Regions from separate parts of the Homo sapiens genome. Here region 2 is linked to region 1. The links come from fine-mapping of genetic effects on gene expression. A gene starts in region 1. The other region holds a variant in brackets. All regions are shown on one strand. Distances are between the middles of the regions.

Evidence for each region. PIP is the estimated chance that this variant, and not a neighbour inherited with it, causes the effect.
Region 2: its variant is the best candidate, but not a certain one, in a credible set for the expression of NECTIN2 in monocytes (Fairfax 2014, PIP 0.66).

The regions. Positions count from the first base shown.
Region 1 is chr19:44,842,728-44,848,235 of GRCh38, forward strand. It overlaps NECTIN2 (nectin cell adhesion molecule 2), which reads left to right and starts at 3,570. Exons shown (of 9, transcript NM_001042724.2): 1 at 3,570-3,886. The coding sequence starts at 3,799. RefSeq lists silencers at 1,934-2,333, 3,201-3,250, 3,331-3,410, 3,541-3,640 and an enhancer at 5,280-5,508.
Region 2 is chr19:44,877,690-44,882,689 of GRCh38, forward strand. NECTIN2 (nectin cell adhesion molecule 2) reads left to right here. Exons shown (of 9, transcript NM_001042724.2): 6 at 4,522-4,675. Among named protein-coding and RNA genes, the nearest start is that of TOMM40, 11 kb to the right of the region's middle. RefSeq lists enhancers at 1,197-2,046, 2,047-2,896, 2,897-3,746. The variant C/T (reference allele first, on the strand shown) is at 2,884.

The sequences.
Region 1 (5,508 bases):
CCTCAAAATTAAATACATAAATAAATTAAGCACATTTATTTATTTTACTGTTTTATTTTATTATTATATATATTTTAAGAGACGGGGCTCTACCATGTTGCCAGGCGTGTCTTGAACCCCTAAATTCAAGTGATCTGCCAGCCTTGGCCTCCCAAAGTGCTGGGATTGCAGACATGAGCCACTGCGCAAGGCCTATTTGTGTATTTATTTATTTTAGAGACAAAATCTCTCTGTCTCCCAGGCTGGAGTGCAGTGGCTCAATCACAGCTCACTGCAGCCTCAACCTCCCTGGGCTCAGGTGATCCTCCCACCTCGGCCTCCCGAGTAGCTGTAGCTGCTATGCATTTATTATGTGTGCGCCTATTTGTCCAGCCATCCTCACACCCAGTTTGTGCCAAGCCTGAGACACAAGCTATCTGGAGCTCACATGGCATGGAGGTTAAAAGCACAGACTGGCCGGGTGCAGTAGCTCACCCCTGTAATCCCAGCACTTTGGGAGGCTAATGCAGGCAGATCACAAGGTCAGGAGTTCGAGACCAGCCTGACCAACATGGTGAAAGCCCGTCACTACTAAAAATACAAAAATTAGCCGGGCGTGGTGGTGCGTGCCTGTAATCCCAGCTACTCAGGAGGCTGAGGCAGGAGAATCACTCAAACCTGGGGGGCGGAGGTTGCAGCGAGCCGAGATTGATTGCGCCACTGCACTCCAGCCTTGGCAACAGAGCCAGACTCCGTCTCAAAAACAAAAAGAGCACAGACCATCCGGGCCCAAAAGAAGCACCCGGCCTGCTATGTGTCTTTGCTGGGTGGCTTGGGGCAAACAACCACCCTGTGCCTCAGTTTACTTTTCAGTGAAATGGGGATCACCATGGTGTCCCCTTCATGGGATCCCTGTGAGGAACTAACTAAGAGAAATAAGGTGCTTAGAAGAGTCAGCTCTGGCTCTGCCATTTTGTTTATTTTTATTTATTTTTAATTTCTATTTTATTTTATGTTTTTCAGACTGAGTCTCACTCTGTTGCCCAGGCTGGAGTGCAGTGGTGCGATCTCGGCTCACTGCAACCTCCAACTCCCGGGTTCAAGCGATTCTCCTGCCTCAGCCTCCCAAGTAGAGACAGGGTTTCACCATGTCGGCCAGGCTGGTCTCGAACTCCTGAACTCAAGTGATCCACCCGCCTCAGCCTCCCAAAGTGCTGGGATTACAGGCGTCAGCCAGGGCGCCCCGCCCTGGCTCTGCCATTTTGTAACTCAGTGAGTCACTTCATCTCTCTGCTTCAGTTTCCCTATCGCCCATGGCGCTGCATGGCTTACATGAGATAATATTCGCAGTGCACTTAGATCAGTGCCTGGCACACGGTAAGTGCTGACTACATGTATTAACAGTATCGTAAGTGCCGGGCGCGGTGGCTCACACCTGCAATCCCAGCATTTTGGGAGGCTGAAGCGGGTGGATCAGGAGGTCAGGAGTTTGAGACCAGCCTGACCAACATGGTGAAACCCCGTCTCTACTAAAAATACAAAAATTAGCCGGGCGTGGTGGCGCGCGCCTGTAATCCCAGCTACTCAGGAGGCTGACTCAGGAGAATCGCTTGAACCCAGGAGGCAGAGGTTGCAGTGAGCCGAGATCGCGCCACTGCCCTCCAGCCTGGGCGACAGAGCGAGACTCCGTCTCAAAGAAAAAAAAAAAAAAAGGATCATAACTAAGACTCGAATGCGGAGGGATAACAGCCTCTGCTACTTGAAACCTAGTCCTTCTGGGGAGGAAAGCCCAGGTGTGTGGCAGGTGGAAGGGAGGGCGAGCCTAGGTGGTCCTCTTGCTAGGGCAAGAAGCCCCCAAGCACCTGCCCCCAGCTGAGCAGCTCCGCGCCTCCTGGCCCTGGACGAACTTGGGCCCAGACTGGCGCTCCGTGGCACCCCCTCCCCCGGCCTCCCGCTTCGCGCCCTCATCCCGCCCCCCGGCGCGGCCTCACCAGCTCCCCCTGGGCAGCCCAAAGAATGCGAAGAGGTAGGTGGGGGTAGGGAGGAGGGCGAGCCGCTGGGAGAGACAAAGGGCCCGAGTCTGAGCGAGAGACACAAAGACGCGAGGAGGCTGGGGAGATAGGGGAAGTGGGACAAGGACGCGGGGAGTGACCAGGTCCGGAGGCCGGACTGGAGCCCAGCCCCACCCAGCCCGGCCGGGCCAGCGCAGCGCGGGGGCCGGTCTCTGCTGCCCCCTGGCGGGTGGCTGCGGTGAGAAGGCGGCGCGGAGCAGGTGTTGGGAGGGGAGGACCAGGGCGCGCAGGGAGGTAGGGAGGGAAGGAAGCAGAGAACAGAGCAGGGACAGAGAGACAGCGAGAGAGACTCGCACGCAGAGACAAGAGACGCCGAGAGGGAGACACAGAGAAAGAGACAGGGACAGAGAGACACAGATAGAGACAGAGAGAGACACACGGAGAGACAGAGACAGAGAAGCACAGAGATAGAGAGGCACAGAGATAGAGACAGAGAAACACAGAGACAGAGAGGCACACAGAGACAGAGAGGCACAGAGACAGGCCGATAGAGACAGAGATACACAGAAATAGAGACAGAGACAGAGAGGCACACAGATAGAGACAGAGAGACACAGAGACAGAGTCAAAGGATGGAAAGAGACATGGGGACCAAGTGACCCAGAAACAGTGACAGACAGGCCGGGCTTGGTGGCTCACGCCTGTAATCCCAGCATCTTGGGAGGCCGAGCCGGGAGGATCGCTTGAGGCCAGCCTCAGCAACATAGTGAGACCCCGCCGCCCCCCCGCCCCGTCTCTTTTATTGAAATAAAGAAACAGTGACTGACAAAGGAAGACCAGAAACAGAGCGACACCGAAGCATGAGGACGGAAAGACCCAGAGAGGCAGAAATACAGGGACAGAGAGGAAGACCCAAAGAGAGTGAGAGAGACACAAAGACACGTAAGAGAGACAGAGAAATCCAGAAAGAAACGAGTGCAGCGACACCTAGAGTTCGGGGCAGAGATTAGAAACGCACGAGGGTACGAGAAACAGGCTCAGGGCGATGGGCTCGACCTGCGGGGAGGTCGCACAACCGGGACGTGCTGGGGGCAGAACCGTAAAGCCCCACGTGCCTCAGGCAACTGTGATGAGAGGACCCGGGCAGGCAGGAAAGGGCAGGATTCGAACTGTGGGTGGGACAGAGGCCAGGACGGACTGAGCTAAGAGACCGAGAGAACTCCGGCTAGGGCGAGGGGCGGGGCTGGTGGAGGCGGGGCTGGTGGGGGCGGAGTCGGCCGGAAGGGCCGAAAGGGGCGTGGCAAGACCTTGGCGAGGCGGCCGGTAGGCAGGGGGCGGGGCGTGGGAACTACTCGGGAGCAGAGGGGGCGTGGCTAGACCTTAGGGGGCGTGGTTTAACGCCGGGAGCGAAGGAGACAGAATTCTTTGGCAGGGGCGACCTTAGAATCCTGGGGAGGAGCGAGAATGGAATCCCGGGGAGGAACAGGGGTGGAATCCGGGGGGCGGGGTCAGAACGCCAGGAGGGGGCGGGGCCGGAGCCAGGGTCGGCTTGACTCGGGGGAGCAGCGGGTGGATCCTGTGACGTCAGCGGGTTCGAACCGCCGGAGCTGAGCGAGAGGCCGGGGGTGCCGAGCCGGGCGGGGAGAGCTGGGCCGGGAGAGCAGAACAGGGAGGCTAGAGCGCAGCGGGAACCGGCCCGGAGCCGGAGCCGGAGCCCCACAGGCACCTACTAAACCGCCCAGCCGATCGGCCCCCACAGAGTGGCCCGCGGGCCTCCGGCCGGGCCCAGTCCCCTCCCGGGCCCTCCATGGCCCGGGCCGCTGCCCTCCTGCCGTCGAGATCGCCGCCGACGCCGCTGCTGTGGCCGCTGCTGCTGCTGCTGCTCCTGGAAACCGGTGAGACGAGCGGACGGCCCCCTGCCCTCGCGCGGACCCCCTCCAACCTTACCTTCCGAGCTGGGGAAGCCGAGCACCTTCCCCGCCCACCCCCGGCTCCCCGAGCCCCCTCTCGCGTGCCCCCTTCCTGGCTGGCCCCACAGACTCCGACCCCCTACACGTCCGATTCTCTCGAGGAGACTCTGACCCCTCCTTTCTGCATCTCTCTCACCACCACCCCCATCCTTCTTAATCCAATTGCCCATCCTACGCCTGCTTGTCTGTCCCCCTCCCCATTTCTCGGATTCCCGCGCCGAAAGGGTTAAATCCCAGGAAGGCCTGGTGCCCCCTCCCCACCCCGCGCCGAGTAGTTCACCCGGATCTGGGTCTCTGTCTCCTCTACCCCTCTCAGGAATGTGGGGAATGTTCCCCCCACCTACCGCAGTAAGGTCTCGAGGAAGAGGCGAGACCACCTCCCTCCCCTATTTTTCCTTCTTCCCGGCTTGGGCGTCTGAGGCCCGGAGAGAACTGAGGACAAGCGGACCTGATTCGGGTCCCTTGGAGGGCTAAGGATAAGAGTTCTGGCGACTTAGGGGGAAGGGCCTGAGCTCGGAGCTCCAACCCCGAACCTCAGGGAGTTGGGGGTTCTGACTCCGTGGACTCCAGAAAAATTAGGGGCCGGGGGCTCCGTCTTCAGGGTCCCTGGTAGAATGGAGGCTAGGCGCTAAGTCTAACTGGGATCTAGGTAAAACTGGGGGCGAGAGAGGATCAAACTTGTAGCTTCTGGATTTAATTGTGGGCAGGGGGCTTCGTTTTCAGGGTTCCCGGCAGAACCGGGGGACAGGAGACTCGATCTCGTGGGCTTCAGACTTAATTGTAGGCAGAGGAACGTCTTCTGAGATCCAAACAGAAGTGCGAGCAGCGGGCCCCGTCTCTTGGGCTCCAGATATGATCAAGGGTCGAAGGCTCTGTCTTGAGGCTGGAGTCTCAGTCGCCTGAGTCCCAGATAGAACGGGAGGCCCCGAGTCCCAGAGGCTGGGAGACTCCTCCCTTTCCCTATGAATGGTCGGGGGCGACGGAGACGTCGCCGGGGAAGTTTTCCTGGTTTCACTCTCGCCGAGCCAGGGAGGGGCGGGGCGGGCGCTCCTGGCTCCGGGTTCCGGACTCCCCGGTTTCGGGACCTTATCTATCCTCTGGTAGCGCCTTTGTCCTCAGAGCCATAGCAGGAGGTGGACGAGTGGAGCCGCCGCCCTTATCCCCCGTCCCTCCCATTGCTATGCCTTGGACCCCCTGGCGTCCTTCCATCCACCCCACTAGGGGAGGAGAGCGGCCCCCCTGGGGAGGGAGGGGCTGGGAGGGAACCCTTGAAAGAGGCGCTGGCCCCGCCCCTTGCAGGTGACCCGGTTGTGTATTCCCAGCGACAAACTCTGGGATGCTAGAGTTTCCCGAGGGTTTGCGCAGAAGAGAGCTCAGGGGGATCTTGGGGGAACCCCGGCCACCTCTCTGGCCTCATTTCCCCCAGGATGGCTCTCACTGGCCTCCCAGCTTTGACCCAGAGCTGGGAACTCCGCTTCCATCCCCTGCCTCTCCCTTCAGGCAGAAATAGGCAGATGAGATCAGAACTGGCACCTCTGGGTGAATTC
Region 2 (5,000 bases), 35 kb after region 1:
CCCCAAGCTCATAGCTTTGTGAGGACCCCACAGCACATTCAGGGAGGGCTGCGAAGTCAGATGGCACCAGGGTCCTGGCCAGTGACCGGGCGGCCAGATCTATTGCATCCAAATAGCCAGCTTCCACTCGGCTACGGCGATCGCCAGACATGGGAGTTTGGTGTTGCTAGATCTGATTTGTCCCCCTAAGAGAAACCTGGATTTTTAAGTGAAATCGCCTGATTTTTGAAAGGTTGGCTAGCAATTTAAATTTTGCAAAACACTAACACCTGGGGACCACCGGTTGGCATCCCCCTCCTTGTACAAAGTGGTGCTCAGGCTGTAGCGAAGGGCGGAGGGGCTTCTGCTTCCCCACCCCCCTCCTCCTCCTCCTCCATTCTTCTGCCCAGAGTCACCCCCTCATTCTGGTCACTCCCGCTCCCTCCATCCCCGCCTATCCTGCATCTCCCCCACCCCCTCACTCCCCAGAGCGATCCTCGTGATCTTGTGTCTCCCTTTCTCTCTCTCTCACCCCTCCTTCTCTCTCTCCTCAGAAACCCCCAGGGCCTCGCCCCGAGATGTGGGCCCGCTGGTGTGGGGGGCCGTGGGGGGGACACTGCTGGTGCTGCTGCTTCTGGCTGGGGGGTCCTTGGCCTTCATCCTGCTGAGGGTGAGGAGGAGGAGGAAGAGCCCTGGAGGAGCAGGAGGAGGAGCCAGTGGCGACGGGGGATTCTACGATCCGAAAGCTCAGGTGTTGGGAAATGGGGACCCCGTCTTCTGGACACCAGTAGTCCCTGGTCCCATGGAACCAGATGGCAAGGATGAGGAGGAGGAGGAGGAGGAAGAGAAGGCAGAGAAAGGCCTCATGTTGCCTCCACCCCCAGCACTCGAGGATGACATGGAGTCCCAGCTGGACGGCTCCCTCATCTCACGGCGGGCAGTTTATGTGTGACCTGGACACAGACAGAGACAGAGCCAGGCCCGGCCCTCCCGCCCCCGACCTGACCACGCCGGCCTAGGGTTCCAGACTGGTTGGACTTGTTCGTCTGGACGACACTGGAGTGGAACACTGCCTCCCACTTTCTTGGGACTTGGAGGGAGGTGGAACAGCACACTGGACTTCTCCCGTCTCTAGGGCTGCATGGGGAGCCCGGGGAGCTGAGTAGTGGGGATCCAGAGAGGACCCCCGCCCCCAGAGACTTGGTTTTGGCTCCAGCCTTCCCCTGGCCCCGTGACACTCAGGAGTTAATAAATGCCTTGGAGGAAAACATCAGGGGTGTCTTGTAATACATCAGACCCCCTCCTTGCATGTTGGGGAAAGAGAGGGTGGGACAGGGACTCCTAGGTCCCAGGGCTGGGAAGAGCTGATCCACGCCCCCGGGGAACGAGAGCCTGGCAGGGGTTAGACTGGGGAAGGCTGTGGGGCTCGGACCACTTGGATCCTTGAAAGACGCATTGGATGGCCGAGAACCGCAAGGCTCGTGCAACTAGGATTCAGGTCACTGGATTGGGGACTCAGAGGCCTGGACATTTGGACTCCTGGGTCCCAGGACAGAGGCTGCCTTTCTGGATGGTGTGGCCAGACCCATCAGAGGCAGGAGTTCTCTGGACTCCTGGGCCCTCGGGTGGAGGTGGGGGTGGGGACAGCAGGGGCTCAGCCAGGTTCCCTGCGTCCTGAGAGAATGAGGCCAGAGGGCTGTGATCCAGTGGAGCCTCAGACCTCAACTCCCCCAGGTTGCTGGGGGTCTCGGGAGGGGAGGGCTGCTCCCCACTCCCATTCTTAGGGGCCCTGAGGGCATGGGGCAGGCGGGGGGTGCTGGGGAAGTCCCACCTCTGGCCACCCCGACTGTGGCTCCCCTCCTTCTCCATCCTTGCCCCCAGGGATCACCCCAGGGGACTTTTCAGTGGCTCCCTGGGAGTGGCGGCAGCTCCCTCCAGCTCCTCTCAACTGGAAAAGCAAAGACGGGGGGAGGGGCGGCCCTTGGTCCTTGAACTCCCAGGCTCAGTAAGGGACAGGTTTTTACCCGCGTCACCTCTGCTCTCCCAAGCCTCCATGCCTCCTCTGTAACACGGGGCAGGTGTTTCCATCGGCCTCACAAGGCTGTCGTGGGACCCAGTAAGGACATGCCCGTGATGCCCTCATGCAGCCTCATTGACCTCCACAGACCCCACCAAGCCCTGTGCCAGGCAGTGCTGGGGCTGCAGCTGTGGCCTGCACAGACCCAGTGCCGTCCTCCGGTGTGCACGGCCATAATGACCACAAGAATAGCAGCAGTATGTTTAGGATGAAGGTGTGTGTGTGGACCGAGGGGCAGTCTCTCTCTCTCACTCCCCCACCCTCTGAAGCCCTCCAGAGGATGCCAGGCTGTGGAACGGGAGCAGTGGAGATCCAACAGTCCAGCGTCCTCTGGAAGCTTCCTCCTCATCTGGAGAGTGAGGCCGATGCATGCGTGACCCCCACGGGCCCTTCCATACTTGTTACTTCCTCTGGTTGTTTGTTGTCTGTACTCACCCACCCACCCCACCCGGACAACCGGAGGGCAGGGGCGGGGAATTGGGTCCGCCTGGCACACAGTGGATCCTTCAGTGCCATGCTGAGTCCTCCTTACACACCCAGCAAACACCTACTGTGTGCCGAACCTCAGGCACACAGTCTAGTATGGAAATTGGCAAGTAAACGGGTAACCACTCCAAAAACTCTTCCATTAGGAAAGACTTGAGAAATGGAAACGGGAGGTGCTAGCAAGGAAGGAGAGGCCCAGGAGCAAACAGGCTTCTCGCTTCTCGACCCCTTTTCCTGTCTTGCCTTTTTTTTTTTTTTTTTTTTTTTTTTTTTTGAGACGGTGTCTAGCTCTGTTACCCAGGCTGGAGTGCAGTGGTACGATCTCGGCTCACTGCACCCTC[C/T]ACCTCCCAAGTTCAAGCAATTCTCCTGTCTCAGCCTCTTGAGTAACGCACCCAGCCTTTTTTTTTTTAAGAAGTGGGGTGGTCTCCCTATATTACCCAGATTGGGCTCAAACTCCTGGGCTCAAGCGATCGATCCTCCCACTTCAGCCTCCAAAAGTGCTGGGATGACAGGTGTGAGTCACTGTGCCTGGCCCCTGGCTAATTTTTTTTTTTTTTTTTTAAGACGGAGTTTCACTCTTATCCAGGCTGGAGTGCAATGGCGCGATCTTGGCTCACGGCAACCTCCGCTTCCCAGGTTCAAGCAATTCTCCTGCCTCAGCCTCCTGAGTAGCTGGGATTACAGGCGCGCGCTAGCATGCCCAGCTAACATTTTGTATTTTTAGTAGAGACAGGGTTTCTCCATGTTGGTCAGGCTGGTCTCAAACTCCCAACCTCAGGTAATCCACCTGCCTCGGCCTCCCAAAGTGCTGGGATTACAGGCGTGAGCCAACGCGCCCGGCTAGCCCCCGGCTAATTTTTAAAATTTTTTCTAGAGATGAGGTCTTGTGCTCGTTGCCCTGGCTGGTCTTGAACAATCCGCCCGCCTCGCCCTCCCAAAGCGCTGGGATTACAGGCGTCAGTCACTGCCCCAAGCCCTAACCCCCTTCCTGATAAGTGGAAGGAGATTCTAGTCCCCAGAGGTGATTCTGGATCCCAGAATTCTGTCCCCGCATTCTCTGTCTTCTAGCCGCCCCTGGTCCTGTCTCCTCTCCTCTCATCTTCCCACTCTGCCCCGCCTCATTCTGCCCCAGCTACACAGTCTACTTGCTGTTCTTTAAAAACAATACAAGGCAGGCCGAGCACGGCATAATCCCAGAACGTTGGGAGGCCGAGGCGGGAGGATCACTTGAGCCCAGGAGTTCAAGACCAGCCTGGGCAACATGGCAAAACCCCATCTCTACAAAAAAATTCAAAAAAAAAAAAAAAAAGCTGGGCCTGGCGGCACATGCCTGTAGTTCCAGCCACTCCGGAGGGTGAGGTGGGAGGATCGCTTGAGCCCAGGAGATTGGGGCTACAGTTGGTGGTGATCATGCCACTGCACTCTAGCCTGGGTGACAAAGCGAGACCGTCTCAAAAAAAACCATAGAGCCCCACAAGCCTCCTGCAGGGCCGCTGGCTGTTTGCGCTGCCTGCGATACCCCCAGACACTCTCATGACTCATCCCCGGTGTCTCTTTCAGGCCCTTGCTCAGTTGTCACCTTACAGTAAGGTAGAGGCCCTCCCACTACCTTCGGGGACCCCACTTTGCACCTCCTATCACTTCCGCACTGTATATTTTTGTATCCCCCGTGACTTACTCCCATCTGGCATGTGAGCTATTGTACTGGTTTGCTTACTGTTGTTCTCCCTGCCCAACCAGAATCAAAGTTCCATGAAGGTAGACACTTTGTATGTTTTGTTCTCCACTCATCTCCCATGCGGGGCACACATCCTCGCTCCTTCCTCATGCTCAGCAGTTTGAGTTGAATGAAAGAATGTCCCCTGCCCATGGGAGAGGACATAGACAGGCAGGCGATGATGTGGGGTGGGATGGTCGCTTGGAATAAGGAGCTGTGGCTTCCTCCTGGAGACCCCCTCACGCTGTCCCTCTCCTTGCAGAGACCCCCAACACAGCAGGCGCAGGGGCCACAGGCGGCATCATCGGGGGCATCATCGCCGCCATCATTGCTACTGCTGTGGCTGCCACGGGCATCCTTATCTGCCGGCAGCAGCGGAAGGAGCAGACGCTGCAGGGGGCAGAGGAGGACGAAGAGTAAGTGATGGGCCCTGAGACGGGGATGGGAGAGGGGTCGAAGAACTGAGGAGTATGGGGTAGGGGTGAGGGTGGGAGAAAATTCTCCATAATGGCTGTGTGAAACAGACAGACCTAAAGGAACTGGGGTCTAAATGGAGTAGGGAGGTATGGGTTTCTCTCTGCTATAAAGTATGGCATTGAATTTAAAAATTAGCTGGGGGCCAGGCACAGTGGCTTACACCTGCCATCCCAGCACTTTTGGAGGCTGAGGTGGGGAGATCGATCGTTTGAGCCCAGGAATTTGAGCCCAGTCTGGGTAACATAGGAAGACTACCCCCATCTA